Linked DNA regions of Homo sapiens: region 1 is linked to region 2. Evidence: fine-mapped expression QTL. A gene starts in region 2. The other region holds a variant in brackets. All regions are shown on one strand. Distances are from middle to middle.

Region 1 (2,899 bases), 42 kb after region 2:
CGAGGAGGTGGAGGTTGCAGTGAGCCAAGATCGCGCCATTACACTCCAGCCCGGGAAACAGTGCGAGACTCCATCTCAAAAAAAAAAAAAAACAGCAGTAGCCACAAGCCATACGCCACTTCTCCCTGCGCCCACCCCCTCGTCAGCACGACACCCATATCCGTTTTGTATTGCCATGAGCACAGCCACCACACTCTTTCAGACATATTTGCACAATTGGACTCTTTTTTTTTTTTGAGACGGAGCCTCACTCTTGTTGCCCAGGCTGGAGTGTAGTGGCATGATCTTGGCTCACTGCAACCTCCGCCTCCCAGGTTCAAGAAATTCTCCTGCCTCAGCCTCCCAAGTAGCTGGGATTACTGGCATGTGCCACCACACCCAGCTAATTTTGTATTTTTAGTAGAGACAGGGTTTTGCCATGTTGGTCAGGCTGGTCTCAAACTCCTGACTTCAGGTGATCCGCCTGCCTCGGCCTCCCAAAGTGCTGCGATTACAGGCCTGAGCCACCGTGCACAGCCTGCACAGTTGGATTCTTTTTGACCATTGCACGTGCTCTGCTGTCTTAGACACCAAGCTGTGTCCAGCCTCCTCATGTTAAAGTGGTAGGCAACGTCCTTAAACAAATGCCTGCCCTCAGACGGCTTGGTTTCAAATCCTGGCGTTACTTCATCACTGGCTTTGGCCAAGCTCAACCTACCTGCCTGTGCCTCAGTTTCCTCATCTGGATGACAGGGATAAGAGGAGAGCACACCCCATAAGGTTGTCGGGGGAAAAACTGGGTAAATATAATAGCAACTGGCTCTGAGTAAGTGCTCCACAAATGTCAGCTGTTATTCTTCTATTTGGGGGACAAAAATCAAGTCACCCACTGAGGGACACTGGGGTTTGTTGGCATCTCGGTTACAGGCGGTGTGGCAGGGGACATCCGCGCATATGTGTCTGTGCACAGGTGTGAGGGTGTCTGTGAGATCCATTCCTGGCAGTGATACTGCTGGACCAGAGAGGCCACCTGGCTACTCAGTGTTGTAGGTGAACATGGGACCTGGGCTCCAATCCTGGCTGTGTGACCTGAGCCAAGATCCTCACTCTTTCCTGACTGCTTCCTGCTCTGCCCTGTTGGACCTTAAATCGGGCTGCGGGCCTGAGCAATCAATTTACCAAGATACTCAAAAAGCATCCACTGAAGCATCCACTGAGCACCTGCCACGTGTCAGCTGCGGGTACCAGGGAAACTTTCACCACTGGACAAAGCAGGCCTCCAGGAACTCCCTGCCCTCCAGGAGCTCCCACTCTACCAGGCAGGCAGAGGGAACAGGTGGCCATTTGTTAGATGGGCAAGGCCTGTGGGGCTCCGTCAGACCGGAAAGGACTACGGGGAAGTCTCAACAGGGTGGATGTGGTTGAAATAGGCCAGGGGAGACATCCCTGAGAACATGCCTCCTGAAACACAGGGCGATGAGGGGGCGGGTCTTGCCTGGAGAAAGGGCTTTTCAGGTGGAGGGAACCATCTGTGCAAAGGTGCTAGGGT[C/T]GGACTGAGCCTGGTGTGTTCATGGAACAGCAGGGAGGCCAGTGTGGCTGGAGGTGCAGGAGGTGAGGGCAGAGAGGGAGCAAGGGGCTCTGCAGGTCTGTGGGCCACGGTGAGGGCTTTGTGTTTATTCCTGTTGAGCCAGAGCCACAGGAAGGCTCTGAGCAGAGGGACCCAAACTGCCCAAGGTGTTGACCTGCGCCTTCTGGGGGACTTGTGGGGAACAGACTGTAGGGACTGAGGGCTGAGGCAGGTGGCTGGACGCAAGGGTGGCGGAGGAGGGAGTTAAAAGAGTTTGGATTGTGGATACATTTTAAAGGTGGCAGGCAAAGTGAGGTGGCTCATGCCTATAATCCCGGCACTTTGAGAGACGAGAGGATCACTTGAGCCCAGGAGTTGGAGACCAGCCTGGCCAACATGGTGAAACCCCATCTCTACTATATAAAAATAGAAAAATTAGCCAGGCATGGTGGTGCGCGTATAGTCCCAGCTGCTCTGGAGGCCGAGGCAAGAGGATTGCTTGAGCCCAAGATGTTGAGGCTGCAGTGAGCTATGACCGTGCCACTGCACTCCAGCCTGAGCAACAGAGTGAGACCCTCTATCTCAAAAACCAACAAAAAATAGTGGAGCCACCAGGATGTGGTGTCAGGACTCATCAGGGTGTGAGAACATGGAGTCCACAGCGACTCCAAGATTTTGACCAAGCAAGAGGGGGATGTAGCTAAGACAGGGAAGACCAAGAGGAGTAGGCTGCGTGTGAGGGGCTGAGGGAGCTTGAGAAGTGGGCTGTTGAACATGTTATGAGTCGGATGGTAGATCCCACACCCAAGATGGGATTTTTTTTTTTTTTTTTTTTTTTTTGAGACACAGTCCCTCTCTCTGTCGCCCAGGCTGGAGTGCAGTGGCGTGATCTCGGCTCACTGCAACCTCCGCCTCCCAGGTTGAAGCAATTCTCCTGCCTCAGCCTCCAAAGTAGCTGGGATTATAGGTACCCACTACCACGCCCGGCTAATTTTTACTATTTTTAGTAGAGATGGGGTTCCACCATGTTGGCCAGGCTGGTCTCGAACTCCTGACCTCAGGTGATCCTCCTGCCTCAGCCTCCCAAAGGGCTGGGATCACAGGCGTGAGCCACCACGCCTGGCCCCAGATGGAAATTTCAAGTAGGCAGTTGTATATTCGAGTCTGGAGTTTAGGGGAGAGGACTAGTGGGAGACAAAAAGGAGACATGTGGCTGGAAGAAAGTTGGGAATGGACTCAAGTTCAAGAGGCAATGAAAGTGGAAAGGGATTCGTGGGGCAGAGGGAGGGGTGGCAAGGTGGGGACCCCTGACCCCGACGGTGCTGGAGGACCCGACAGGGTCAGAACCTGAGG
Region 2 (2,899 bases):
CTCAACCCTCCCCTCCTTCATCCACCCCAGGTGGGGTCCCCCTCAGCTCTAAGTGACCAGACCACAGAGCGGCAGCTCTTGGAGGCCTCACAGCACTGGGACCACGCCGTGTTTGTGGCCCGAGGGGCCCTGTGGGGCGCTGAGGACATCAGGAGATTGGATGCAGCTGGGGGCCTCCGGGTGAGGCCTGCTGGGCTCCCCAGGAACCAGGGGAGGCCTGCAAAGACCCCACTCCCCCTAACCCGGGCTCTTGCTTCCAGAGCCTTCGTGTCACCATGGCCACACACCCCGATGGCTTCCGGCTTGAGGGACCCCTGGCTGCAGCCCACAGCCCTGGGCCTTGCACTGTGCTCTACGAAGGCCCTGTCCGTGGGCTCTGCCCCTTTGCCCCGCGAAATTCCAACACCATGGCGGCGGCTGCCCTGGCTGCCCCCAGCCTGGGCTTCGATGGGGTGATTGGGGTGCTCGTGGCTGATACCAGGTGAGCAGAGCTAAGCAGGGTGTTGGGCTGAGTCCAGGCTCTCCAGACTGACTGCCCCTCTTGTCCCAGCCTCACGGACATGCACGTGGTGGATGTAGAGCTGAGCGGACCCCGGGGCCCCACGGGCCGAAGCTTTGCTGTGCACACCCGCAGAGAGAACCCTGCCGAGCCAGGCGCGGTCACCGGCTCCGCCACCGTCACGGCCTTCTGGCAGAGCCTCCTGGGTGCGGCCAGGCCCCTCTCCCCCGGCCCTGGGCTCCTGTGTTCTGCAGAGCTTGGGGGTCCCGGGCTCTCACTAGTTCTGCAGTTCTGGTTCTGTATTTGTTGACCTTTCTTTCTTTCTGACCTTTATTTCCTTAACCTCTCTCCATGACTTTGAATCCTGGCACTGTAGATGTCTCCATTTGTGCCCGCCTCTGATCGAGACTCTCTCTGTCTCTGTCCACCCCCAGGGCTCTGTCCCGCTCTCTCCGGGTCTTCCTCCACCGCCCCCCTGCCCTGTCCCCTCCTCCCACCACTGCCTCCCCCAGGCGTCTGTCTCCTCATCTCTCCTCTGTCTCATTCGCTCATTCCCCTCTCCCCGCAGCCTGCTGCCAGCTCCCCTCCAGGCCGGGGATCCATCTCTGCTGAGAAGCCTCCTCCCTCCCGAGACAAGATCATCTGCCTGGCCTCTCACCACCACCATCCCACCCCTGCCCTGCCCCACTTCCCCAGGGTCTCCCTTCTGACTCAGTAAAGATCACCGCTGCCTCCCCCCGCACCGCCTGGCGTCTCTGATCCCTTTCCCTTGTGTGACGTCACGCTGCGTCTGCGCACCGCGCATGACGCCATCGCCGGGGGCGAGCACCCATGAGAGCGCGGCGCCAGGAAGCTATCGCGAGAGCCTACCTACTAAGTTTCCTAGAATCTCTGAGCAGTAGTGGGCGCGGCCGTATGCGAAAGAAGGGCCTCTGAGGCGCACTTCCGGGACCTGCCGCGGAGCCCGACGGAAGTTGTAGTGCGGCATTTCCTAGGCCCGACGGCCGACTTCAGGGCCACGCGGCCCGGGCGTTCCGTGTGGAGCAGGAGTCCCGCGGGGCCCCACGGGAGTCGTAGTCCGGCGCGCGGGGATCACCGGGAGCTGTAGTCCGTCCCGCCTGCCCAGTCAGCGCGGTGTTGCCCGCCCCGCACTCGGAGCCCAGAGCCGCCGCCCAGGAAGGGGATGCGGAAACCCCTGGCTCGGTGGAGCGGAGAGGCAGGCGGGGTGAGGGGCGTTGCCAGGCAAAGGGCGAGCGCCGTGGCTGGGGTGCGGGTCGGCGAAGGGCTCCATTCCTTGGTGTCCGGGGAGGGGGCCTGGTTGCTGGGTGATAGGAAGAGGAACTCCTGTTGCTTAGTGACTGGGGAGGGGGCCCCGTTGCCAGGTGACAAGAGCAGAGAGCCTCGCTGCTACATGACCGGGGAAGGGGAGTCTTCTGTTGCTAGGAGACCAGAGGGGACCCTATCACCTAGAGACAGGGGAGGAGGATTCTCTATTGCTAGGTGCTCGGAGGACAGACTTTGTTACCTAGTGCGGTGGGGAGGGGGCTTTGTTGCTAGGTAACCACAGAGCGCCCTGGTTACCTAGGGACGGGGAGGCAGGTTCCTCTGTTGCTAGGTGACCATGATAGGGACCCTTTTACTTAGAGACCTGGTGAGGGTGGTTTTCTGTTGCTAGGGGAGCAGAAGAGACAGCGTTTTTCGTAGGAATAGGAATAAGGGATGGAGGGACGTGTGCTGCCAGGAGACTGCCAGGGAGCGGGGTCAGGGGCCCAGTGTCTTCCTGGGCTGCTCCGAGTCCCAGCTCAATCAATGGCGATGCCCCAAAGGCCTGCTGGGAGGCTGGACCTCTAGATCCCGGGCCCCTGAGGACCTTCTCCCCCTCCCAACCCCCAGCAGGAGCCGAGGACGGCATGTCCCAGGCCCCGGGAGCACAGCCGAGCCCACCCACCGTGTACCACGAACGGCAGCGCCTGGAGCTGTGTGCTGTCCACGCCCTCAACAACGTTCTGCAGCAGCAGCTCTTTAGCCAGGAGGCTGCCGATGAGATCTGCAAGAGGTGACCGTCACCCACCCCAGCCCCTGGAGCAGCAGAGCTCTGGCGGAGTGACCCACCTGGGTCTCGCCGCCAGGCAGGCGCTGAGCCTTGGGGGCTTTCTTCTGCTCCGCGCTCACTTGCCTAAGCTAGACGCTGGGACTCTGGGGAGATGTTGCCTCCTGTGCCTGTCTGTCCCTGTGGCCTCAGCCCCAGCCAGACCTCAATCCAGTGGTTCTTTCTTTTTTTTTTTTTTTTGAGACTGAGTCTCACTCTGTTGCCCAGGCTGGAGTGCAGTTGCGCGATCTCGCTCACTGCGAGCTCGGCCTCCCGGGTTCATGCCATTCTCCTGCCTCAGCCTCCCGAGT

What was found. PIP is the estimated chance that this variant, and not a neighbour inherited with it, causes the effect.
Region 1: its variant is the best candidate, but not a certain one, in a credible set for the expression of JOSD2 in whole blood (INTERVAL, PIP 0.88).

Annotation. Positions count from the first base shown.
Region 1 is chr19:50,467,851-50,470,749 of GRCh38, reverse strand. The region is part of intron 3 of GARIN5A (golgi associated RAB2 interactor 5A); the gene reads left to right. Among named protein-coding and RNA genes, the nearest start is that of EMC10, 7.2 kb to the left of the region's middle. The variant C/T (reference allele first, on the strand shown) is at 1,529.
Region 2 is chr19:50,509,942-50,512,840 of GRCh38, reverse strand. JOSD2 (Josephin domain containing 2) reads left to right here and starts at 1,650. Exons shown (of 5, transcript NM_001270639.2): 1 at 1,650-1,724; 2 at 2,393-2,555. The coding sequence starts at 2,410. It overlaps ASPDH (aspartate dehydrogenase domain containing), which reads left to right. Exons shown (of 7, transcript NM_001114598.2): 4 at 31-180; 5 at 261-481; 6 at 551-705; 7 at 1,068-1,238. The coding sequence ends at 1,111. It overlaps LOC124904747 (a long non-coding RNA gene), which reads right to left and starts at 1,423. Exons shown (of 3, transcript XR_007067300.1): 1 at 1,370-1,423. RefSeq lists enhancers at 456-1,045, 1,349-1,468, 1,963-2,469, 2,470-2,899 and a silencer at 1,669-1,798.